Linked DNA regions of Homo sapiens: region 1 is linked to region 2. Evidence: fine-mapped expression QTL. A gene starts in region 2. The other region holds a variant in brackets. All regions are shown on one strand. Distances are between the middles of the regions.

Region 1 (9,742 bases), 63 kb before region 2:
ATCCATGGATCTCAAGCATCGCTGTGTCCCTACCTGGCTTTCTCAGGACTCGGTTCAATGGCCCAACATTCCCTGCACCGCATGCCTCACCTTGCCCTTCCTCATCTCCCACCACCCTGTCAATCTGCAGCGTCCATCACACAATTTCCGTGTCCATCACTGATCGTCCCAGCCCTGTGCAGCAGCTGCCTCTCAGCCTGCTGAAATCTCCAGTGGGATTTTTTCTCTTTCTAAGAGTTGGTTTACCAGCACCCTACTAGTCTATGCCCAGAAGTGGGATGGTTTTCCCAAGTGTGAGCTTCTAGTAAGGTCTGCCAAATAGCAGAAACATTGCAACGTTTTGGGTAACTATTGAATTCCGGAACTGAGTGGAAAGAGATGTTGAAGACCGCTGGAATCCAGCCCTGGGAGCCCAGGAGCCACTTCCGGCTCCGTGACTTTCACGGGGACTCCAGTGACCAGTACTCACCACTACCCAAACCAGCATGGTCCTTTTATGGGCAGTTCTGACTGGGAACAACTAGAATTGTCATGTCAGCATCACGTGGAATATATATTTCTTTCTAACATGAGTGCCAAGTATTTGGATATTCATGGACATGAGCCCCTGAATCTTCAGCTTCTTTTTCTCTTCAGCTACACGTCTTTCATCTTTTCAGTGTCCTCACAGGGCACAGCATGGCATGGTGTCCAAGTCGCCAGCGTTGCTCCCCTTCCTTAGATCTTTCCCCTGTGGATAGACCACCACAGCTACTGCCATTATGCCTTGGGAAACACCAGCTGCCGCTTATTGAATGCCTGTCTATGCTAAGCACTGTGCTGGGGGTTTTACAGATGTGGTCTCATTTAATCCTAATGAGAAGAGGTAGGTTATTACTATTATTATTATTATTTTTGAGAAGGAGTTTCACTCTTGTTGCCCAGGCTGGAGTGCAATGGCACCATCTCAGCTCACTGCAAACTCTGCCTCCCAGGTTTAGGTGATTCTCCTGCCTCAGCCTCCTGAGTAATGGGGATTACAGGTGCCTGCCACCACACCTGGCTAATTTTTGTACTTTTAGTACAAACGGGGTTTCGCCATGTTGGCCAGGCTGGTCTCGAACTCCTGACCTCAGGTGATCCACCCATCTTGGCCTCCCACAGTGCTGGGATTACAGGCGTGGGCCACTGCGCCTGGCCAGAGGTAGGTTATTATTATCCTAATTTTGGAGATGAGGAAACTGAAGGTCAGAGATGTTCAGTAACTTGCCCGAAGTGTCCCAGCTATGAGGCGGCAGGCCAGCTAAGTCTGCAGTGGTATTCTTAGCGGGTGGCATTCCATAACTCTTATTTGTATTTTCCACTTTTTTGTGCTTTTCAGCAGTTTGTTTGTCTCATCAATTTTTTTTTTTTTTTTGGAGGGGGAGAGCTCTGGTTCCCAGGGTCCGCTTTGAGGCTTCGAAATTCCAGCCGCTGTCTCCATGGGCCACAAGTCAGTGGCTGTGTGGCCCTTGGTGTCTGTGCCCCCAGTCCAGTCCCCCTCTGCACCAATGGATGTGGTGCAGCTATTAGGATAGAATTCCAGCATGATTGAGCCAGAGGTCCTGGACGCCACAAAGCAGAGGGGTTGAAAGTAGAACTTTAGGGTCAGCCATCCCTAGTTTACAGGATGCCATTTATCAGCTGTGTGGCCTTAGGCAAATGACTTAGTCTTAAGAAACCTCAGTTTCGTAATCTGTCCAACAGGAACGATGATCCCCTTCTTACAAGGTGGTGCTGAGAATCTAGTGAGATGATGCATGCAAAGTCCCCGGCACAGTACGTGCACCTCTCAGAGATGCTTCATAAGTAAGAGCTGTCATCATCTTCACCTTCATCATCATCACCATTGCTTAATCTATGCTTTCATCTTCTACTTGGAGAAACTGAGGCCAAGGAACATACTGAAGAATCTACATATGTGTGTATATAATTAAAATAGCAGGTGGCCATTAGCCTGTCTCCATAATTTGAGTTCCTACATAACAAACTGCAACCCAACCAGTACAGAAACACACTGAAACCTAACCTAGGAGTATATTTTTGTAACAGATAGCTGGGTTTCAGCTAATGACAAACAGCTTCAGCCAACTGATCAGACTATGCCCAAATAAGGCAAATGCCTCATGACATCATGCCCAAATAAGGCAGACACCTAGCTGCAGCTGATCGGGAGATTTCTCTACTTCACTTCTGTGTTTGGCCTATAAGAGCTTACTGCTCACACAGCTGGATGGAGCTCTCTGAACCTCTTCTGGTTTTGAGTGCTGCCAGATTCCTGAATTATTCTTAGCTCACATAAACTCTGCTAAATTTAATTTGTTTAAAGCTTTTCTTTTTCTTTTTTTTTTTAAATGGGGTCTCACACTGTCACCCAGGCTGGAGTGCAGTGGCATGATCGCAGCTCACTGCAACCTCCACCTCCCGGGTTCAAGCAATTCTCCTGCCTCAGCCTCCCGAGTAGCTGGGACTACAGGCACACGGCTCCACACCCAGCTAATTTTTGTATTTCTAGTAGAGACGGGGTTTCACCATGTTGGCCAGGTTGGTCTTGATCTCCTGACTTCATGATCTGCCTGCCTCGGCCTCCCAAAGTGCTGGGATTACAGGCGTAAGCCACCTCACCTGGCCTAAAGCTTTTCTTTTTAACGCTACATGTATACACACACACGTGCAAATGTGTGTATGTATCTTTCTATCTCTACCTAATATTTTATGACTTCAGTATTTTATTGAGACCAATAGCTCAAGGCCATCTGAGATTGAAATCCTTCATGTGCCTTCAGCTCTATCAGGGCTGACTTTCATCTATCACTTTCATTCCATCTCACCTCCCCCTTTCCTTTGCTCATTACATTCCAGCTATGGCGAGCTTCCACCTCTTCCTTTAACAGCCACACTCATTCCCAAGGCCTTTGCACTCTACCTGGTGAGCCCTCCCTCTCCAGCCCTTCCACTAGCTATTCCCTTGGCTGGCTTCAATCTAACAGCCAGGTTTGGGCTTAAATGTCATCTCCCCAGAGACAAGTTTCCACCTACCCTCGCTAGTATTCCCCTTAGCCCTAGTCATCATTTTCAACCTTACTTTTCTCTTTGGAGGTTTCTGAGTCATTTGTTTACTGGTTTACTCTCTGTGAACTTTATGCGGGAAGGGTGCTTGTCTACCTGGTGCATGGCTGAATCTTTGAGTCATTACTACATATTTGTTAACTGCCTTCTCCCCTCTCCAAAACATGCATGAATGTTCCGGTGCTGGGATACTCACTACCTGCCTCAGGTTGTGCAGAGAGGCTGTTCTTACCCCCAAAACTTTGGGCTCTCCTGTCAGGAATGTCTCCACGGGCCGCAAGTCAGGTGGCTGTGTGGCCCTTGGTGTCTGTGCCCCCAGCGGTGGCTCCTCAAACTGCATAATCCCTGGAGGTTGGCACATGGATGTGGGCAGAATGGCCGGAGGTGGGCAGAGGCCACTGGCGTTGTTTGGCGGGATGACAACAAACACTCCATTGCTGGCGGGAGCTGCAGACATCGTGCTCAGAGAGCCTGGGAAACAAAGGCTTGGGAGATAATAATGGCAATGATGATTGTCACCCATGTGCATAAAGCTTTTTAGTTGATAAGCAACGTGCCTACTTCCCTTGCTTACTGCAGCCCTGCCAGTATGGCCCCAAACGCTCTCATCAAAGCTGGGGAAGCTGAGACTCAGAGAAGCGAAAGATGTCTGAGGTCAAGGGCCTGTAGGTGGGGTAAGACTGAGATTTGAATTCTAGTCTCTCTGGTTTCAGAGGCCTTGCTCTTAATCTCTGAGCTATATTATGTGGAAAGCTCCTTTTGGAGGAGTGTTTATTTAAATGCCCTTCTTTTCCCAGAAAGGGCAAGTGACTTACCTAAGGACACACAGCTAGTGCAAGGTAGAGCTTAGCTAGAGTACCGGTTTCTTCACCCCGAGACCAGGACTCACTGCCACTTCCTGCCTCTCAGCTCTCAACTATTGAGCTAGCGTCAATAATTCCCCTGGGTATGGGAACTTCCCACCTGCTGTGGGAAGCTTTCTATTTGGCCACCCAAGCAATTACCATTGATGTAGCCAAGAAATGTGTAGATATGGAAACTTTATGCAGAGTTTATAGCTTGCAGTGAATGCCAAGAATGAGTTCTTAGACAATTCCAGCTGAGTGGGCCTCGAGCGGGGGTGGCGGGGAGCTCTTCTGAGAGAGTCCACCCCAGCATCTGTCCGCCAAGTATTTATTGAAAGAGCTTGTTAAACCACAAACATCCACTAGATGGCTTTTTGAGGGTCATGAGACACCTATGACCTTATAAAAGCTCTCAAACCACCTTCTTAGGAGGCTGTTTTCAGCGTTCCTTATTACACACCTCAATCCTTGTCCTGTTTTTAGGGTCAAGGAGTTACATTCTCATGCATAAATAACATACACAGAGTGCCTCAGTATTTTTCCATGCCCCAACCTCAAATGCCATGTACATAAGCTTGGATATGTTGCCGTGCACCCTCAACATCTCCCCCTTCTTTAATTTTTAGAGTATGTTGGTTATTTAAAGCGAGGTAAGCTTTTATTGCTTTTTCTTGGTTATAGATGCACTGAGTGACAGCACAGAGCCATTTGTACATACCTAGCAAACAAATACAAAAAAGAATAAGTATATTGGCCATTACCCAAATGTGTATGTTTAACCCAGATAACTAAGTGTTTGGGTTTAACTATTGAAAGCCTTTTTATAATTGTTGAAGGGTATTTGTTTATAATTGCTGTGACCATTTTTTAAGTTGTTTTTTAAATTTACACTTAAGAGTGGGAATTTGAGAAGACTAATGATTGTGATAAGCCCCTTGCAGGTGTGTTTTCACTCTCTCCCAAGCATATTGGGAGCTATTATATGGCAGAGGTGTGACATAGATAGAATTATATTGCCAATTACAATATAAATGTTGATGGGTAATGAATGCCAGCTGCTGATCCCCCAGCCATTCAACTGCAGCTTTAAGAGCCTCCAGGTGAGACAGAGTAGTTTGATTAATATTTACCTGTTTTTGAAATTTATGGGTTACATTATATACCATGTGGTTCACCACTGAAGCTGTGTGAATAGATTTTGTTAGAAAAAGCAGCTGCAGTAGCAGCAGTTGCTAATATAATAATAGCTGAGACTAAAAAAGCAATTAAAGTGGCCAGAAATCTTTTTTTCTGAGTATGAGACAGTGCTTTTCTAAACAGCTGCAGGGTTGAATCTCCTTCCCAGCTCCAGG[C/T]TAAATTTACAGGCAGCCAAAATTCTGCACGCCATTTTAAGATCATGACATAGGTTATATTTAACTATGTAACATTTCGATGAGACAGGCATGTAGCATACTAACTACTGGAAGAGACTTTACTACTATAAAAGGATTGATTCTGCTCTATATTAGGAACACTTTGCCCAAACAAAAGTATATAAGAGTGCGTAGTACAAATCACAACTATGTCAGTAACATTATTATGGAAACAGAGGGTATAATTGCCACTGCTAGTAATATACTCATCATGTGAAAGAACCCATTCAAAAAAAGGAAGTTCTAATCTCCAAATTTGGGTATGAGCAGGGCTTAAAGCTTGTTTCCCTTTTAGTTGTAATATTGGTCCTGAAAGCCTGTACTCTGACCAGGTGATAGACTTACTGGGGACTCCCAGATCCAATAGTCTGATTTGCAGACATAAGATAACCATGGGGACTCCAATCAAGTAAGGTGCCATTATCAAACAGAGGCCCTTGACATGGCGCAGGCTGTCTGGATGGAGACCACTGAATGGCCTCAAACTTATATCCCCAGTCCCTACTCAGACGGCATATAGGAAGATCAGGCACTTGTGTAGCTTCATTAGAGACCTCAGTAAGATTAGTGGTAATAGCAGAAATAAAGGTCAAGTTTGCAAGCTTAGCATCCCTTTTACACTGATAGTAAAGATACTCCTGAAGAATAAGAGTAACACACTTAGCATGTGCTATTGTGGAAAAACAAAGAGGGGGATTACTAGACAATACAACCAAGGAGTTATTAAGTTTAATCCATCCCAAATTTTCCACTGAAGGGTAAGACAGGGGCATCCATCGACCTCTCGTCCAAGAAGTATCATTAGATGACAAAGGCAGGTCAGCATCCCACCATGAAATAACATTAAAAACAGGGGGATTTAGAACATGACTCCAGTAAACATGTTCTTGAGGTGATCCCACTTGGCAAAGGACAAGAATTACCAGCCACCCCAACATCTATGTCGTCTTACTTTCTCAGAAGTTTTCCCAATTACCCCCAGATACATAAGAAACTGATTCTCTGCAGTTACAGAGGCTTCTATGCCTGCAAGCCGGATAGTTGCCTGTTGATCCAATTTCTTTAGCTGTCCCCAGGTAATGTCAGGTGCCTTCTGAGTCATCACCGTCATTGTCAGTCGATTCTCCAATGACAGGTCCTGTTCTCGAGAAGAGGGCCCGATATTCCCCCTTTTTTGTTTATTAAGATATACTTTACGAGTTTGATGAGCTTGTTTAATAATGGCCTGACTGGTTGAGTTACAGAGAATCCCAGTCTTGGGTTGTATGTTGATCTTATTGCCAAAGTTGCAATGCATAGCCAAAGTGAGCACTAAGATAGCAGGGGCCATTATCAGTTTTACAGTTTGTGGAAGGCCTGGAGTCATAATAGATTCAAACAAATGAGCAACTGCATCTTTAGTTTTTTCTCCGGCATGGGGATAGCATGTATTAGGTCTATATAAGTGTCCACAGTAACATGGAGAGATTTAAAACGTCCAAAGGGTGGATACTGAGTAACATCAGTTTGCCAGATAGCATTAGGCACCAGACCTCGTGGGTTGGCACCAAGTCCTAAGGAAAAAGGGGAAAGAGAATGCCATTGGCAATCAGGATAAGTTTTAATAATCATGTGAGCTTGAGCAAGTGTTAAATGAAACTGTTGTTTAAGACTGCAGGCGTTCTGATGGAAAAAAAGCATGATCAGCTTGAATTCGCAAAAAAGCAGGAGAGTCTGCAAACCACATCTGTGTGTGTACCAGAGCATTAGCTCGAGCGTTCCCTTCTGATAAGGGACCAGGTAGCCCAGAATGAGAGTGAATATGTGTGATGTAAAGAGGGTGATGATCGAAGGGGGCTTGCCCCTCCACACCTGTGGGTATTTCTCGTCAGGTGGAGACAAGAGACTGAGAAAAGAAATAAGACACAAAGTACAGAGAAAGAACGGTGGGCCCAGGGGTCCGGCACACTCAGCATGCGAGGAACTGCACCGGCGCCGGTCTCCGAGTTCCCTCAGGGTTTATTGATTACTATTTTCACTATCTTGGCATGGGGGGTGCGGCAGAAGAACAGGGTGAACAGGGTGATGGTGGGGAGAAGGTCAGCAGGAAAACATGTGAGTAAGGGAATCTGCATCATAAATAAGTTCAAGGGAAGGTACTGTGCCCAGATGTGCACGTAGGCTAGATTTATGTTTCTCTTTACCCAAACATCTCAGTTAGTAAAGAGTAACAGAGCAGTATTGCTGCCAGCATATCTCGCCTCCAGCCACAGGGCAGTTTTCTCCTATCTCAGAATAGAACGAATAGTCGGCTTTACACCGAGACATTCCATTCCCAGGGACATGTGGGAAACAGAGGACTTCCTCTTATCTCAACCACAAAGAGGCCTTCCTCTTTTACTAATCCTCCTCAGCACAGACCCTTTACGGGTGTCGGGCTAGGGGATGGTAAGGTCTTTCCAATCCCACGAGGCCATATCTCGGGCTGTCTCAGTCGGGGGAAACCTTGGACAACACCCAGGCTTTCTTGGGCAGAGGTCCCTGCGGCTTTCCGCAGTGCATCGTGTCCCTGGTTAATAGAGAATGGAGAATGGCGATGACTTTTACCAAGCATACTGTCTGCAAACATATAGTTAACAAGGCACATCCTGCATACCCCTAAATCCCTTAAACCTTGATTCAGTACAGCACATGTTTCTGTGAGCACAGGGTTGGGGCTAAAGTTACAGGTTAACAGCGTCTCAAAGCATAACAATTTTTCTTTGTACAGATCAAAATGGAGTTTCTTTTGTCTTCCTTTTCTACATAGGCACAGTAACAGTCTGATCTCTCTTTCTTTTCCCCACAATGATGGTCACAGAGGAGCTCTTACGCTGCAAGAAACAAAGCTAGTAGGGGTTCATTAGTAATGCCCTTCACATGTGCAAGATCTAAATGAGTAATACTACACACCGCATAAGCGGAATCACTAACTATGTTTATGTCTTGGTGAGGAAAAGTTTGTAAGGCCAATATCAGGGCACCTAACTCTGCCTGTTGCGTGGTTTTAAAATGTTCCTGGATTTTGTGCTGCCATTTTTGCATGGCCTATTGCCACACTGTAGCTGCTCTTCCAGTTTTTCCTAAACCATCTGTAAAGACAGTAGTGGCATGAAGCAAGGGCTCAGAAACAACAATAGATACAAATTTAACAGGCACAGTTTGTAAAAAGTTCAGGAGCTTAGAGGCTGGTAAATGAAAGCTGATATTACCAATAAAGTCAGCTATTGCGATTTGCCAATCAAGAGCACAAGCTAGAAGAGTATGAAATTGTTTTTTGCTTAAAGGTAGGAAAACAGTAGCAGGGTTATTTTTGCCATATGCCTGGTTAGGTCACAATTACAATATGTGGTTCCGGTCATTATTGCAGCAAAAGTTTGAGTCAGATGAGTTGTAGTGCCTATATTTTGGCATGCTTTAATAAACACACTGATTTCAGTGGCAGTGGCTTAGACTGGAGTTATTGCTGTCTGACAATCCTTATTTGCTTTTTCAAAAGCCAATTGTAACATAAGAAGTTTGGTAGCCTTAGGATGGGATACCTGTTTTTCAATTGCAGCTTGCAGTCGGTTGATAAATTTAATGTATGTTTCTGTGGCACCTTGTTTAACTGTTATAAAGGAACCCTGGGATTGTCTTACGGGATTTTTTTTTTTTATGTTTGTATTGCTAGCTGTGAGCATTGAGGAAATAGATGGCCACCTGCTTGACCCTGAGTCTGAGCTGAAGCAAAAGGCCCTGTTCCCAATAGCATATCAAGTTGTATCGGGATATTATTATCCAAATTTTGCAAGGACTGCTGCATGGCTAAATCACTGTACTCACTCCACCACACAGTATATTCTGCAGCTGAAACCAAAACATTTACCAAAGTTTTCCAATCATGTGGAGTCATCTTATAGCCATTTCCCAGAGCCTCAATCACCTCCTTCGTAAACGGTGAATGTACACTGTTTTCACGGATACTTTTCTTTAACTCTTTAAAGACAGTAAAAGGCAAACTCTCATGCCATCTCCTGTTGCTTTGAACAATAACAGGGAATGCGCCAAAAAGCGCCTCAGAGTCTCCCTTCCTAAGTCCCTCTTGGAGGCACCCCTCTACTAAGAAAGTTTGACGAGGAGTTGGCGTTGAGGACACGGCCACCCGATCATATAGATATTCACTGACTGGAGGTCTTATCCAAGAACCATCTCTTGGGCGGCCTCCAGACTCCTCAAGGGGGATGGGAGGCGCCATTGCCTGAACGGGGCCAACGAATACAGGTCCCTTTAAGGGTGGAGGAAAAGAGGGCAATGGCTTTTCTATAGGGGGAGGAAAAGGCTCCGGTCCGTCCTCATGATCACTAGAAAAAAATATCCTCCTTATGCCCTACAGAAGGG
Region 2 (16,534 bases):
AGCACAAAGCTTTGTCCATGTTGATTATCAGAGTTCTGTTGGCTGGATTCCTTAGGAAAGCGAGTGACTGAGCCTCCTTCGGCTTCCCCGGAGTCCTCTTCTCTGTACTGGAAGTACTCTTGGCTCCTGGTCTGCTAGAGGGCAGCCCTGGGCCCCTGGGAGCTCTGTGCCTCTCTGTGGCAGGGCTTCTTAGGAAAGCTGTTATCTCTCTCTCTCTCTCTCTCTCTCGCTCTCCATACTCTGATGCCTTAACTAAGGTGACTGTATTGCCCCTTCTCACTTCTGCATCCTCTTGGGACTTTTCCACATGTGACTCCAGGGCCAGGCTCCTGTGGCCAGTCTGTATGAGCGGGAATGTGTGTGAGCACCGTGTGTCTGGTTATAGTAGGTGCAAGGCTGGGGGAGGAATCGTATGTGACCTTATTTTCCCCTTTGTGACACCATTCTATAGGTCTCCAGTTGGAAGAGCTGGTCTCAGAATGTAACTTACCAGGCAATAAGAATATGGCTGATTTTCTGCTGCCACGGAGAGAGATCCTGAAATGATAAACTGGTACAGAACAGAGTGGGTTTAGAAAGAGGTCAGGGGCTAGGGTGCCCTTCCCCAGGCTTCTGTGATTCTGGTCACACACAGTGGGTACCTTTGCTGGAACCATCAGCTCAACATGGGCAACAGAAAAAATGAGCTGTTTTGCACTGCCTGAAAAGGCACTGGGGTGGGATAAATATATATTCTAGGATCCAGCAAACCTGGTTTTAAATTCTGGCTAGAAACTCTTGACCTTGGGTAAGTTATTAACTTCTCTAAGTCTTTATTTCCTCATCTACAAAATGGAAAAATTTATAGCTCTTCCCAAGTGTCATTGTCATGAGACAACTTATGCCCTACATCTGGCATTTAGTATATCTTTACACTTAGTAGATGCTCAAATGTTGGATTATTTCCTTGTATTTTATTTTCCCACAAGTACACCCTATTGTTTTCCAATCTTTATATCAAGATTCAGTTAGGTTTGGGGGCTCTGGAGGGGAGAAGGAAGGGGTTACCAGCGTCTTCTCTGCTGCTTTTAGATAGAAGCCTGACATCAATCCTTGCCTGCCTGCATATCTGGACAAATAACTTTTAGTTACTCAGATAAACATTGTGTCGCTATGATGCTGAACATCAAATACGAGGATGATGATGTCAATTGCGTGCATTTCATCCAACATGGTATTCCGCAGGCACTGTGGCTGATGGGATTGCCTGCCATCATTTGCCCAGTGGGCTAGCAAGAGTGGTATGAGAGGGCATGAGCTATATTTAATAGGAGCTACCATTTGTGGGGCACTATAGAAAATGCTTTTTTAGAAAAGGCTTCATTGACATATAATTCATGTATCATATAATTCACCCATTTAAAGTATATTATGCAATTATTTTTAGTATATTTATAAAGTTGTGCAATCATCACTACAATGTAAGTTAGAACATTTGCAACGGCCCCAAAAGAAGCCACGTACCGACTAGCAACCCATCACCGCCCTCCCCCCAACAGATGAAGTACTTGTTCAACCTCGCCTCATTTAACCACATGGTGGCCCATCAAGCAGTATTACTCTTGCCATTTTATCAATGAGGAGACTGAGGCTTAGAGATTTTGAACAACTCACACAACATCATCCAGCGGAGTTTTCATTGTAAATAAGTGTTTCCACTCTATGGCACATGCATTTGAGAATCAAATCCAGACAGCTTGATTTCAGACTCCATGTTCCTAACCCTCACTCCATACTCCCTCCCACCCACGGCAGATGCATGTGCCATAGAGTGGACATAGTTATTTACAGTGAAAACTTATTCCAGCTGTTTCTGCCTTCCAAGGCCAAGGCCATATTCTCCTATGAGTGGAAAAACAAATCTCAGGCTCACACCCTTCTGTTTATAGAGATTTGATGGGGAGGAAGGGCTGGACTTTTGGTATCCCTCTCAGTCCTTCTGAGGTGCCAGAGGAGATGAGCCTTTGTTTCAGAAGAGGATATTGATGATCTTTGGGAAATAGAAAGACAGTCCTGGGATCAAGAAGGCAGCAAAGAGCACAACTGCCCTGCAGAGCAAAAGGAGGAAGGTCATGAGGGCTGAAGGGACTCAGCAGCCTGGTGGGAGGAGGCGTGGTCAGTGAGGCATTTGAGATGCCAGGACAACTGCCTGCTGCTCACTGGCACTTGGTGGAATCCAGTGCTCCGTGGTAGGCATTGTGTGCTCAATGGTAGGCCTGGGTGGCCGTGATGCTAGCCCTCTCCATAGCCCCACATTCCACGAAGGTCAGAGATACAGGAACAGGTATCTTGTGAGTGGTTGTGGGAGGGAAAGGGGCTGAGTTCTGAGTTTGGGTGTGTGCAGAGCCTCGCTAGAGGAGCCCTGTTCATTTGCAGAACTTGTGTGGCTGTCGGGGATGGAGATAGCTCTAGGCTATTTTATTTAACTCTTATAAGGTAGAGGGACTTGGGCTGGCACCTAGGTTACTCTGGAGTTGTGCCATTTATGAGGAAAGTTGCATTAGTGTCACATGTAGGTGTGTGAGTCAGGAGGAAGACTGTAACAGAAGGGAGAGAAAGGAGAAAGGAAGGTGGAGAGGGGAGGAGAAGGAGAGAGAGAGAGAGTGTGTGTGTGTATGTGTGTGTGTGTGTATGTGTGTTTGTTTGTATGTGTGTGTGTGTATGTGTGTGTGTGTGTGTGTGTGTGGGCAGGGGGACACTGCAAAGGAACCATAAAGGTAATAAACTGATGTGGAAGAAGGACTGTAGTTCTTAACACTTTATGGAGTCACGGATCACTCTGATAATCTGATGAAAGCTATGGACCCTTCCAGAAAAATAATACACATTTAGCATATTAGGTATTTTGCCAAAATGGAGCCCCCAAAGCCCATCTGCAGATCTAGATTGAGTCCCCAGTGCTCAAGCACTCAAACCCTTGCTGTTCTACAGCTGGGAAGCCACTCTTCACCTTTGCTGAGTGTTTTTCTCCTGGAGCTCAGGCTTGTGGGCCTATGTCCAACAATGCCAGGGGCTATTCCCAGTGTATTTTTTACATGTGGATGTTTTCTTTGTGAATTAAGAAAACACATCCCTTTTGGCCGGGTGTGGTGGCTCACACCTGTAATCCCAGCACTTTGGGAGGCTGAGGCAAGTGGATCACCTGAGGTCAGGAGTTTGAGACCAGCCTGGCCAACGTGGTGAAATCTTGTCACTACTAAAAATACAAAAATTAGCCGGGCGTGGTGGTGCGCGTCTGTAATCCCAGCTACTAGGGAGGCTGAGGCAGGAGAATTGCTTGAATCCGGGAGGGGGAGGTTGCGGTGAGCCGAGATTGCACCACTGCGCTCCAGCTTGGGCGACAGAGTGAGACTCCATCTCAAAAAAAAAAAAAAAAAAAAAAGTAAAAAGAAAATACATCCCTTTTGAGGGGATGTCACCTTGCGGGGTTGTAGCTTGATATTATGGGCTGAATTGTGTCCACACCCTCTATCCCCCACCAAATTTCGTAGATTGAAGCCCTAATCTGTAGTGCTCCAGAATCTGACTGTGTTTGGAGATAGGGTTGTTAAAACCGTCATTCAGGTTAAATGAGGTCATCAGGGGGGACCCTAATCCAAAATGACTGGTGTCCTCATAGGAAGAGGAGACTAGGGCACAGGCATGGAGGAAGGCCGTGGAAAGGCTCAGGGAGAAGACGACCTTCTGCAAGCCAAGGAGAGAGACCTTAGGGGAAAACATCTGCTAACATCTCCATCGCAGACTTTCAGCCGCCAGAACTGTGAGATAACAAATTTCTGTTGTTTAAGCCATCCAACCTGTGGTGCTATACTCTGTTGGGCCGGCCCTACCAAACTAATATGCTTGCGGAACGAGGCCAGGGCTGGCTGGTTTCCTATCCCCCACATTTGGGTGGCTGGGAACCTTCTGCAGGGCACAGCTGCACAACTTGGCAAGGTGGCCTTGAGTGCCTTGGCACCTTCTGGGAGCTCATCGGCAGGAGGACTTGAGTTACTCACCCACAAGCCTCCCCAGAAGGGAAAGCCTCCGTAGAATGAAATAGACAGGTATTCCCCTACGAGAACCGTCGCCATGATGGAGCCGAGGCCGATGTGAGCCAGGCCAATGATGATCTGGATGGCCTGTCAGGAGAGCCACAAGCTGAAGTCTTGTTTCTGAGGCTGGGTCCTGCCTCCCCTATGAGCCTCCTTTTAATTTTAATAAATGTTTTATTTTCATGGTCTAAAAAGTAATATGGGAAATACAAAAATGAAATAAAAACTACCTGTAATCTCCCCTCCGCCTGGAGAAAACAACTGTTTACATTTTGGTGTATTCTCCCATTATTCTTTTCAAATATATACCTTGATAGCACAACATGGCCCCCTGAATTTTATTAACTTAATATTTCATCATGAATGTGTCCTCATGGCATTAAGTATTCTTGGAACATATGTTTTTTCAGGGCTGCTCAGATCCCATTATGGATGGTCTGTGGAGTAGTTGAGACAGAGTTATTGGACAGGTAAGATTATTTCTACTTTTTTCTATTATATGTAACATTGTGATAAACATCCTTCTATGTAAATCTTTGCCTTCATCTCTTATTTCTTTAGGATATTGTTATGTGTTAAATTATGCTCCCCTCCCCCAACCCTCCTCCAAATTCATGTGTTGAAATTCTAATGCTGAGTGCCTCAGAATGTGACTCTATTTGAAAACAGAGTTGTTGCAGATATAATCAGCCAAGATGAGGTCACACTGGAGTAGAGTGGGTCTCCAATCCAATATGATTGGTGTCCTTATAAAAAATGCCATGTGGGCCAGGCACAGTGGCTCACACCTGTAATCTCAGCACTTTGGGAAGCTGAGACGGGCGGATCACAGGTCAGGAGTTCAAGACCAGCCTGGCCAACATGGTGAAACCCTGTCTCTACAAAAATACAAAAACTAGCTCGGCATGATGGTGGGTGCCTGTAATCCCAGCTACTTGGGAGGCTGAGGCGGGAGAATCGCTTAAACCCAGGAGGCAGAGGTTGCAGTGAGCCAAGACTGCGCCACTGCGCTCCAGCCTGGGTGACAGAGTGAGACTCTGTCTCAAAAAAACAAAGTTTTCAACTTTATTATGGTGTGAAAGTGACATGAATTCAGTAGAAACCGTATTTGGAGTACCCATACAATCATTCTGCTTTTCATTTTCAGTCCAGTGTTCAGTAAACTACATTAGATATTCAAGAACACTATTAAATAGGCTTTGTGTTAGATGATTTTGCCCAGCTGTAAGCTAACCTAAGTGTTCTGAACTTGTTTAAGGTAGGCGAGGCTAAGCTATGATGTTTGGTAGGCTACATGTATTAAATGTATTTTTTACTTATGATATTTTTAATTTACGATGGGTACACTGGGACATAATCCCATTGTAAATGAAAGAACATCTGTGTATGTTTGTATATTACACACGTGGTAGCAAATACAAATATATTACTTCCTTAAATTCACATAAATGTAAGCAAATTATACACAGTGTCTGCCCCTTACTTTCTTCCATTAACTCCATATCTTGGGGTGTGTCCCTATCATTACACAAAGAGCTTTCTTGTTCTTTTCATAGCTCCACTACATTTTATTCTTTGGATGCACTGACTTAACCAGTATATTACACTGACTTAACCAATATACTGACTTAACCGGTATTATATTGATGGATATTACAATATTTTTGTTATCACAAACCACGCTGCAATGAATAAGCTCATACATATCACAGTTTTTGTGGGCACAGGCATATCTGGAGGATGAAGTTCCAGCAATGGAATTATTGGATATTTTGTAAATTTGGCAGATACAAATTTCCCTCCCTAAGGGTTGTATCAATTTTTGTTCCCATGAGCACTATCTGAGGGTGGAGCTAGGGTTGGAGCTCGGGCAGTCTGCATCCAAATTCATGCCCATCATTCAGCTACACAGTGAAATGGGCCTTTCTTTGTCCAGCGCAGGACAGCCTCTCAGGGGTTGCGGTGACCATTTATGTTGTTGGTTGCCTAACCTGCTTTGTTTCCTGTTGGGCAAATATTTGATTCGATCTTATTGGATTCTGACTCCACCTTGTGGTCTATTTTGGTCTTGCTGGGACCCCTTTCTTCAGAGGCCACAGGGCTGGGCGTGGATCCTGGCAACAGGATCAACCTTCAAGCGTGCTGCTTTTTTGTTGCTTTTCTTTCTCTTTCCGAAAATGCCTAAATCAGAAAATACAAGGTCTGAGCAGAGGCCGCCTGTGATGTTGTGCAGCTGAGCTTTCTAATAGACCTGTGCTTGGCAAGGCGCGATCAACTCAGCCCCACTTGCGGGATGTAGTGTTTGTGTATTTCCCAGGCCTTCCCTTCCCCCTGCCATCACTCCAGCTGTGCAGTCTGTGGCCTGCAAAGGGAAATCTCACTTACCCCCAAGGTTTTGCCTTCTTTCAGAGCTTTCTGCACAGGCTGCCCATTCACATTCGACACCAAACTAGGTGGGTTCCCAGGAACTAGGTGGACTTGCGGCTGGCTGTTTGGATACAGGGGCACGTGAGACATAATTCCTGGGGTCACAGGATAACCATTGTGGGGTGCCACCACCAACACAGAATTGGCCACCGGAACTGCTGAAGTCATCGAATTCATGCTGCCAAGAAATAAATGCGAGAGAATTTTCCCTCACATATGGACTTGTCCTTTAAAAAGGACTTTTGCTTCTTCTAGCTCATTGGAGCATCTTAACCCTCTACAAGTTTATGAATCCCATGTTACAAATAATAGATATCAGTTATAGGGCACTTAAGAGGTGCTTTACAAATACATTTCCTTTCATCCTCTCACCCGCCCAGTTTTACAGATGAGAAAACTAAGACTCAAAGAGGCTAAAGGCTACCAGAGGGCAAGGGGTCCATCTTTTCCATCTTTGTGTCTCTCATAGTGTTTATTTTTTAATTTTTTTTTGAGACAGAGTCTGGCTCTGTCACCCAGGCTGGAGTGCAGTGGTACGATCTTGGCTCACTGCAACCTCCGCCTCCCAGGTTCAAGCAATTCTCCTGCCTCAGCCTCCTGAGTATCTGGGATTACAGGCCCCCGCCACCACACCCAGCTAATTTTTGTATTTTTAGTAGAGATGGGGTTTCCCCCTGTTGGCCAGGCTGGTCTCGAACTCCTGACCTCAGGCGATCCGCTTGCCTCGGCCTCCCAAAGTGCTGGGATTACAGATGTGAACCACCGCACCCGGCCTCTCATAGTGTTTAGAGTGCTGCTTTGCATATGTTAGTACTGGCTGAAAGCAAAAGTTCAGAACTAGAAAATCTCTTGGACAACATTGAGTTCAATTCTCTCATTTTCTGGAAAAGGAAACAGGGTGAGAGAGTGGACAAGAATCCTCCAAGGTCCCAGGTATGTCAATATTAGTTAAATGGAGATTATCCTTCTCAAGGGAAGCCCCATTGCCAAGGCAGTGTCTGTTCATTGGGTGGCTTCCACTGCTCAATTTTCTAGGCTACTTATACATTCTAATGTGGTTTTAAAAATTCTTTTTCTTTTTGTTTCTCCCATCCCCCTCCATGTCCTATCTTTCTCTTTCTTTCTCTTGGAGCAGACTCAATAAAGCTAGTACAATACACTCTGTCTATCCCTCATCCACACTGGTTCGCCGTAAGTCTCACTTGGTAGAAAAACCTTATCACCAACTCCCAGTTACCAACCACCAGATTAAGCAGACTCACCTTGCTCTGCCAGCAGCCACGTATCTCTTGATCCTATTCCTTTTCTTTGCTGTGGGGACCTTGTTTTTTTTCCTGAGAGAATGAATGTACTGGGGCCAGTTGGGTGGTAGGGTTAGAAGGATCCGAAGTCCTCTATTTCCTGGATGCAGGCCAGGTTACATGCTGCTTAGAGCTCAGTTTCATTCGTATTTATTTCCTGTTTTGGTTAATGAGCCAGTTAAATATGGTTTGATTTGACAAGAGTCTATGGTATAATCTCCATGGAGAAGAAAGGGTTGGGCTGGTTGCTCTGGGAGACACAGAAATGAACTGGGCACCCAGGGTGTGCTGTATTTAGCTGTAACATGAGACAGGATGAAATAAACACCACAGAAGAGAGATAAATGTCCCCACAGGAGAACAGAGGAGAAAATGATTTGTTGGACTTGAAGAGATTAGGGAAGACTTCAAACAGAAGGTGGCATATGAAATCAATAAACTGCAGTCCAGAAAGGGATAGAATCACAGCGAGTGAAATGAGACTTGTAATCAACTTAGATCTATTTTCATCCAAGTCAGAGCCAATAGAAAATCAGAAGCCATCCATGGGAGGGCATTCCACATATCTATGACATACATCGTGTGAATTGCACAGTACAAAAACAGCTGCATGTAATAGTCCATGACAGATTTACCGTTGAAGAAGGTGAACAATGAAGAACAAATGAAGTTGATGGGATGGCTAGAACATTGTAAGATGGTCAAAACAAAAAGAACACCGTTGAGGGTATGGAAAGGGAAAAGTCTTGGGGAAGAGAAGGTAGAGATATGTTGGGAATGGCTCACAGTGAAGGACATTGAATGTAAAAAAGATGAAAAGGTAGCTGGAGTCAGACTTCACTTTTTTGTTGTTGTTTGTATTTTTTAGAGACAGGGTCTTGCTCAGGCTGGAGTGCAGTGATAGTTCACTGCAGCCTCAAACTCCCAGGCTCAAGCAATCCACCTGCCTCAGCCTCCTGAATAGCTGGGACTGCAGGCACGCACTACTGTGGCCAGCTAAATCTTAAAATTTTTTGTAGAGACAGGATTTCACTATGCTGCCCAGGCTGGTCTTCAATTCCTGGCCTCAAATGATTCTCCTGCCTCGGCCTCCCAAAGTGCAGGGATTACAGGAGTGAGCCACCATGCCTAACCCAAATTTTACTTCTTTACCCATTTTTTCTATCAGATTCCTGGACCTTTGTCCCTTAATTTTTAAAGAGTTCTTTACATACTAGGGATTTTAGGTCTTTGTCTTTGGTATATTCTCCAATTTTGACAGTGTCTTTTGATTTTGTTTAGGGTGGTTTTCTGTCAAGAAAAATTTTAAAAATTTTTGTAGTAAAATTTATCAGTCTTATCTTTTATTACCTATGCATTTGAGTCATTGTTTGAAAGCCTTTCCTAACACTAAGATTAAACAGGAATTTAGCTGTGTTTTCTTCTAATACTTGTATTGTTTTACTTTTTACATTTTGATTCTTAATACATGTAAAATGTATTTTTTTGTGAATGCTATGAGATGTGGGTCTAATTTTAAATTTTTCCAAAAGTCTACCTGGCTGCCCCAGGGCAATTTATTAAATAGCTCATCTTCTCTTCAGCGGCATTTGAAATGCCACCTTTGTCACAGCCTAAATTTCTATATGCATTTGGTTCTAATTCTGGTCTTTCTTTTACTTTCTATTGGTCTATTTGTCTATTCATGTGTTATTTCAACAATGTTTTAATTATAGAGGCTTTCCAGTGTACTTCAATGTCCTGTAGGGTTAGTCTCCTGTGTAATTTTTCCTTTTTCATTATATTTTATGGCTATTCTTGCATGTTTGTTTTTCCAAATGAACTTTAGCATTTGTCTAACTCTATAAAGTAACTCAATAGCTTTTTGTAAAGACGAATAACATGAACCAAACTGTATTGACAGAAATAATAAGAGGCATCTGAATGAGGACATATAGGTGGCTAAGCCCTAGTGCACGTGGGACATTCAGGACCAGGTTTAACCAGATATTGTAGAAGATGAAATTTGTCACCTTTTAATTGAGTTTATAGAAGTGGTGCCAACTTTCTAGAAGGGACCGGAGACATACAAGGGAGATTATTATTGTCCAAACCTACTTCAGCAAATGCTGTTGATGCAGCATCTATATCCCCTTGATCCACTCTGGAGGTCTTGAGACAGGGTCTTGCTCAAGCTAGAGTACAGTAACGTGATCATAGCTCACTGCAGCCTCAAACTCTGAGCAAACTCTGCAGCAAATGCTGTATTGATGCTGCATCTTCAGCCAGTCTCCACATCTATGGACAACTCCTTTCTTTTCCGAGGATGCATAGGTATGGGGCAGGCCATAGGTGCTGGGAAGTTAATCCCACAAGAATTTTTCCTATCCAGTGTAACGTGCATATGCTGGATAACTACCCTAGCTTCTCTGTCCCCTAAGAGAAATAATTTTGAAGTGTGTTTCAACTGTCTCTTAGAGAGTCTCCAACAGGATTAAGCACCAGTTCCCTATAACAGAACTCATTCATTAATACATAGTCTATTGACTTTCTTCCTTTTTTTGGTATCACTTTTCCATTTTTTTTCACAGTGAGTCTTGGGTCACTTCCCAAGTAAGCACCCAAATCCTTATGTCAGAGCCTTTTGTATTGCTGTGGTATCAATTGTAATGTCTTCATTTTCAATTCTGATTGTGTTTATTTGAATCTTCTCTCCCTTTTATTAGTCTAGCTAGTGGTTTATCAATTTTATCTTTTCAAGGAACAAACTTTTCATTTCGTTGATCCTTTTTATTCTTTTTTCATTTCTGATTTATTTAGTCCTGCCTTGATCTTTTTTTTTTTCTTCTGCCAATTTCGGGTTTGATTTCTCCTTGTTTCTCTACATCCTTGAGATACAATATTAAGCTGTTAATTTGTCATCTTTCTGCTTTTTTTGATGTAGGCATTTAATGCTATAAATTTCCCTCATAGAACTACTTTCACTGTATCCCACAGGTTTTGGTAAGATGTGTTTTTCTTTTCATTTCATAAAAATTTTAAATTTCTGTCTTAATTTCTTCATTGACCCAGTGATTGTTCAGGAGCATGCTGTTTAGTTTCCATGTATTTGTATACTTTCTGAAATTTCTCTTGGTACTGATTTTTACCTTTATTGCATTGTCATCTGAGAAGATAGTTGACATGATTTCAATTTTTAAAAATTTCTTAAGGCTAGTTTTGTGGCCTAACATGTAGTCTATCTTGGGGAATGGTCCATGTGCTGATAAAAATAATGCATATTCTGGGCCAGGCGCAGTGACTCATGCCTGTAAACCCAGCATTTTGGGAGGCCGAGGAGGGTGGATCATCTGAGGTCAGTAGTTCAAGACCAGCCTGACCAACATGCTGAAACCCCGTCTCTACTAAAAACACAAAAAAGTAGCCGGGCATGGTGGTGCATGCCTGTAGTCCCAGCTACTTGGGAGGCTGAGGCAGGAGAATCACTTGAACCCAGGAAGTGGAGGTTGCAGTGAGCCAAGATTGCACCACTGCACAAATACCTGTTAAATCCATTTGGTCTAAAGTCCAATTTAAGGCCAATGTTTCTTTGTTAATTTTTTCTCCCTATGATCTGTCTAGTGCTGCAAGTGGGGTGGTTAAGTCCCCCACTATTATTGTGTTGCTGCCTTTCTCGTCTTTCTCTTTCTTTAGGTGTAGTAATATTTGTGTGTGTTTTTTTAGGTTTGGGGGTACACATGAAGGTTTATTACATAGGTAAACTTATGTCATGGGGGTTCATTGTACAGATTATTTCATCACCCAGGTATTAAGCCCAGTACCCAATAGTTATGTTACTGCTCCTCTTCCTCGTCCTACCCTTCACCCTCAAATAGATCTCAGTGTCTATTGTTCCCTTTGTGTTGATGAGTTTTCATCATTTAGCTCCCACTTATAAGTGAGAACATGTGGTATTTGGTTTTCTGCAGTAATATTTGTTTTGTAAATTTGGGTGCTCCAATGTTGGGTGCATATATATTTAGGATTGTTACATCTTCTTGATCACTTTATCACTATGTAATGCCCTTCTGTGTTCTTTCTTACTGTTTTTGATTTAAAGTCTATTTTATCTGACATAAGGATAACTACTCCTGCTTGCTTTTATTTCTGTTTGCTTGGAATATCTTTTCCACCTCTTTACTTTCAACCTATATGTGTTTTTGTGGGTAAGGTGAGTTTCTTGTAGGCAGCATATACTTGGATTATTTTTTAAACCCATTCTGCCAATCTGCATCTTTTCAGTGGAGCATTTAGTCCATTTACTTTCGGGGTTAATATTGATATGTGAAGCTTTGTTCCTGTCATATTGTTGATCGATTTCAAGTTATAGATTCTTTGTTTCTGTCTTTTTGTCTTTGTGGTTTAGTAAAATTTTGTCATGTTGCCATTTGATTCCTTTCTTTTCCTCCTTTGTGTGATTGTTTTATACAAACTGTAAGTTTTATATTTCCATGGGTTTTAATGATGATGGATATTGACTTTTCATTCACATGTTTAAGACCTCTTTGAGCATTTCCTGTAGGGTGACCATTTGTAGGGGTGACAAATTCCCTCAGTGTTTGCTTGCCTGGAAAGGACTTTATTTATGAAACCTATTTTGGCAGGACACAAAATTCTTGGCTGATAGTTCTTTTGTTCAAGCACTTTGAAAATACCATTCCCTTCTCTTCTGGCCTGTAAGATTTCTGCTGAAAAGTCTGCTGTTAGTCTAATGGAGTTTTCTTTATAGGTGACTAGAAACTTTTGTATTGTTACTGACAAAATTCTTTCTTTCTCATTGACTTTAGACATTCTGAATATAATATTGCCATGGTGAGATCCTTTTTGCAATGTGTTTGCCTGGGTATCACTGGACTTCCTGTATCTTTATGTCTAACTCTCTTGATATTCTTGGGACATTTTTATTGATTATTTCCTCAAATATGTTTTCTAAGCTTTTGTTTTGTTTTGTTTCACTCTGTCACCCAGGTTGGAGTGCAGTGGCACAATCATGGCCCATTGCAACCTCAAACTCCTGGGCTCAAGCAATCCTCCCACCTTAGCCCTTCAAGTAGCTGGGATGACACACATGAGCCACCATGCCTGGCTAATTTAAAAAAAAAAATTTGTAAAGGCAGATTCTTGTTTTCTTGCTTAGGCTAGTCTTGAACTCTTGATCTCAAGCAGTCCTCCCACTTTGGCCTCCCAAATTGCTGGGAGTACAGGCATGAGCCGCTACACCTGGCCATTTCTAAACTTTTGAATCTCTCTACCCCCTTGGGTGTACTGATAATTTGTAAGTTTGGTTGTTTTATATCATCTCAGATATCTTAAAGGCTTTGTTTATCCTTTGTAATTCTTTTTTCCTTATTTTTGTCTGGCTGAATTACTTCAAAAGACATGTCTTCAGGTACTGAGATTTTATTTTCTTTCATTTTCTGAATTGATTTACTGATTTTCTTGTATTAGCTTACATTTTTTTTTGTATTTTTAGTAGAAAGACAGGGTTTCAGTATGGTGCCCAGGCTGGTCTTGAACTCCTGGCCTCATGTGATCTACCTGCCATGGCCTCCCAAAGTGCTGGGATTACAGTGGGATTACAGGCACGAGACACTATGCCTGGCCTGATTTTCAGATATCCTTTGCATCTCATTAAGCTTCTTTAAAAATCAATATTTTAAATTATTTATCTGGCATTTCAAGGGATTCATTTTGTTGGAATCTGTTGCTGGACAATTATGGTCCTTTGATGATATCCCATTTCCCTGCTTTTTCATGCTTCCTGTGTTTTTCCATTGATGTCTTTGCATCTAGTGTAGCAGTTGCTTGTTCCAATTTTTTGAAATTGCTTTGGTAGGGGAATTTTTTTTTTTTTTCTGAGGTTGTGTACGTGTTGTTGATTAAGATACTTCGACTTTGATTTTGCATGCTGGCAGTAGTGTGATCTTTGTTTGACTTCTTTCGCAGTACACAAAGTCAGTGGTCTCTGGGATTGCCTTGGTGACTTATGGTACAGTTAAGGTTGTGGTGACTTTTAGCTGGGGACTTAGATGCCAACTGATGTGGTTTTGGTCTGTGTCCCTGCCCAAATCTCATGTTGAATTGCAATCCCCAGTGTTGGAGGTGGGGCCTGGTGACAGGCGATTGAATCACAGGAGCAGATTTTCCCCTTGGTACTGTGTCACAATAGTGAGTGAGTTTGTGTGATATCTGGTTGTTTAAAAGTGTGGGGCACCCCCCCGCCTCGGTTCTGCTCCTACCATGTAAGATGCCTGTTCCCATGTTGCCTTCTGTCATGAGGAAAAGCTCCCTGAGGCCTCTGCAGAAGCATATGCTGCCATGCTTCCTGTACAGTCCGTGGAACCACCAGGCAATTAAACCTATTTTCTTTTAAATTACCCAGTCTCAGGTCTTTCCTTTCTTTCTTTCTTTCTCTTTCTTTTTCTTTCTTTCTTTCTTTCTTTCTTTCTTTCTTTCTTTCTTTCTTTCTTTCTTTCTTTCTTTCTTTCTTTCTTTCTTTTTCTTTCCTTCTTTCTTTCTTTCTTTCTTTCTTTCTTTCTTTCTTTCTTTCTTTCTTTCCTTTCTCTTTCTTTCTTTCTTTTTTTCTTTCTCTTCCTTCCTTCCTTCCTTTCTCTCTTTCTCTCTTTCTTTCTCTCTCTCCCTCTCTCTCTTTCTTTCTTCTTTTTTTTTTTTAGACAGGGTCTCACTCTGTCACCCAGGCTGGAGTGCAGTGTTGCGATCTCAGCTCACTGCAGCCTCCGCCTTCCAGGTTCAAGTGATTCTCATGCCTCAGCCTCCCAAGTAGCTGGAATTACAGGTGTGCACCACCACACCCATCTAATTTTTGTATTTTAGTAGAGACAGGGTTTCACCATGTTGTCCAGGCTGGTCTCAAACTCCTGGCCTCAAGTGATCTGTCTGCCTCACCCTCCCAAATACTGTGCCTGGCCATCAGGTATTTCTCTATAGCAGTGTGAGAACAAACTAATACACCAACTGAGCCAGTCTTTGGGCCCGAGTAGTGGCAGCATTGGGGTGAGCGAGCCTGTTTTAAGGCTCCAGAGTGGCTTATACTGGCCCTTGTGTTAGCGGTCCTAGAGGGCTCATTCTTGGGCCTCCAAGCTGCTTGCTTAGAAGTGGGCAGTGGGAGCAGTGGGCCTGGTGTGTGGGTGGAGTCTCAGGCCCCTGGGAAGCTGGCGTGGTGTGGCAGTAGCAGTGGTGGAGGAAACCACAGTGACCCATGCCATCTGTGTTGGTGTTGCTGGAAGCTGCAATGGATTGGGTGGGTTACTCCCTGGTCCCACAGCTGCCTTTAGCAGGGCAGTGGGTATTGTTCTAAGTGTGCTTTGGAGACCTTGGTCTTCCTTGTCTCTCTCTCAGTTGGGTGGCGACTGCTGTTGTGTCACCTTGACCTTGGCCCAAGGGTGGGGCACAGCTTAGTGTTAAACTCTCAAAATAGTGCCAGCTGTGGGCTTGTGACCAGAGAGGGTCAGGCCCTTCTCAGGCGAACAGTATGGGCAAGACTCTGTGAGAAGTGTGGTTCGCTTGAGTGTTGGTCTTGCAGCAGCCTATGGCAGGGCATTGAATATTGTCCTAGGTATGCGTCGGAAAGCCTGGCTGCCCTATCCCTCCTTGACTGGGCAGTAGTTGCAGCCATGTCAACTTGAATTTGGCCTGACCGTGGGGCATAGCCCAGCATTAAACTCTCAAAATGGCACCTTAGGCCTGTGGCCAGGGAGGGTGGGGTCCCTCCTAGGCAAGAAGCATATGTAAGAAGCTGTGGGGAGTGTCATCCCCTCACGTCTCAGTCTCACAGCAGCCTGTTGCAGATCAGTGGGTATTGTCCTATATTTGCATGAGATAGCCTGGTTTCCCCGTCACTCCTTGGCTAGGCAGCAGCTGTAATTGTGTTAGTTTGACCTCAGCCCAAGGGCAGGGCACAGTCCAGCACTCAACTCTTAAGATGGTGCCTTGGGGTTTAGACCAGAGACGGTGGGGCATCTCCCAGGCAAGCAGTGTGAGCAAGAAGCTGTGGGGAACGTGGCTCATTTATGTCTCAGTCTCAACTGCAGCCCATAGCAGGGCGGCAGGTACCCTCTCATTGGTGCATGGGAGCACCTGTTCTTCCCTCTCCCTCCTTGGAGCTGCTCAGTGGCAGCAGCTGTGTCTGTAGATACCCGGTATCCAGGCTCTCAAAATGGCTCCCAGCTGAGGCTGCTCTGGGTGCTGAAGCTTGTGGGATTCTGTGTGGGTTCCCTTTCTGGGGCAACATCTCTGTGCAATCTTTAGGAAGCTCCATATGCCAGGCCTGATGCTGTCGTGAATCCACTACAGGGTTTCTCCCATAGCCAAGATCATAAAAGCCCATTTTGGAGTTCTAGGGGTTTCTCTCTTCCTGTTTCCCTAGGTCCAGGAGCCTCTCTTGGCTCTTGGTCAGTTCCTGGCTGGGCAAGCTTCCTCACACCATGTCCTTTCTTACTGCTGGTGTTTCTCGTCTGTTCTCTGCTGTATCCAAGTGTTCTTTCCTAGATGATCTGTTCAAAATGTGAGGATCTGGGTACTATTCTCTTTCCTCTCCTTGGAGGAGGCACACCAGCAATTACATTTTTGCAGATCATCTTGCATCCTGATTTTAGGCTTTGTTAGGGTGCGTCTTTTTCTCCCTTTTTCTTATTCCAAGGTGTAGCCTGTACTCCTAGTTCATCGTTCTTAATTAGAAGCTGTAGCATCTCTGGA

Alleles and levels. Positions count from the first base shown, and alleles are read on the strand shown. Sizes are in standard deviations (SD) of each study's normalised expression.
For the expression in skeletal muscle of the gene that starts at base 7,926 in region 2, allele T in region 1 goes with a lower level than allele C (moderate effect, 0.60 SD a copy in FUSION).

Evidence for each region.
Region 1: its variant is fine-mapped to the expression of MS4A8 in skeletal muscle (FUSION, PIP 0.95).

Annotation. Positions count from the first base shown.
Region 1 is chr11:60,757,536-60,767,277 of GRCh38, reverse strand. MS4A15 (membrane spanning 4-domains A15) reads right to left here. Exons shown (of 7, transcript NM_001098835.2): 2 at 3,320-3,572. The coding sequence starts at 3,544. Among named protein-coding and RNA genes, the nearest start is that of MS4A15, 5.5 kb to the right of the region's middle. RefSeq lists enhancers at 1,819-1,998, 2,726-2,855, 3,936-4,025, 4,056-4,115. The variant C/T (reference allele first, on the strand shown) is at 5,285.
Region 2 is chr11:60,691,004-60,707,537 of GRCh38, reverse strand. MS4A8 (membrane spanning 4-domains A8) reads right to left here and starts at 7,926. Exons shown (of 7, transcript NM_031457.2): 1 at 7,763-7,926; 2 at 6,459-6,678; 3 at 4,038-4,160; 4 at 491-550. The coding sequence starts at 6,677. It overlaps LOC105369321 (a long non-coding RNA gene), which reads left to right and starts at 3,609. Exons shown (of 6, transcript XR_001748240.2): 1 at 3,609-3,799; 2 at 4,484-4,543. RefSeq lists enhancers at 5,881-6,380, 6,381-6,882.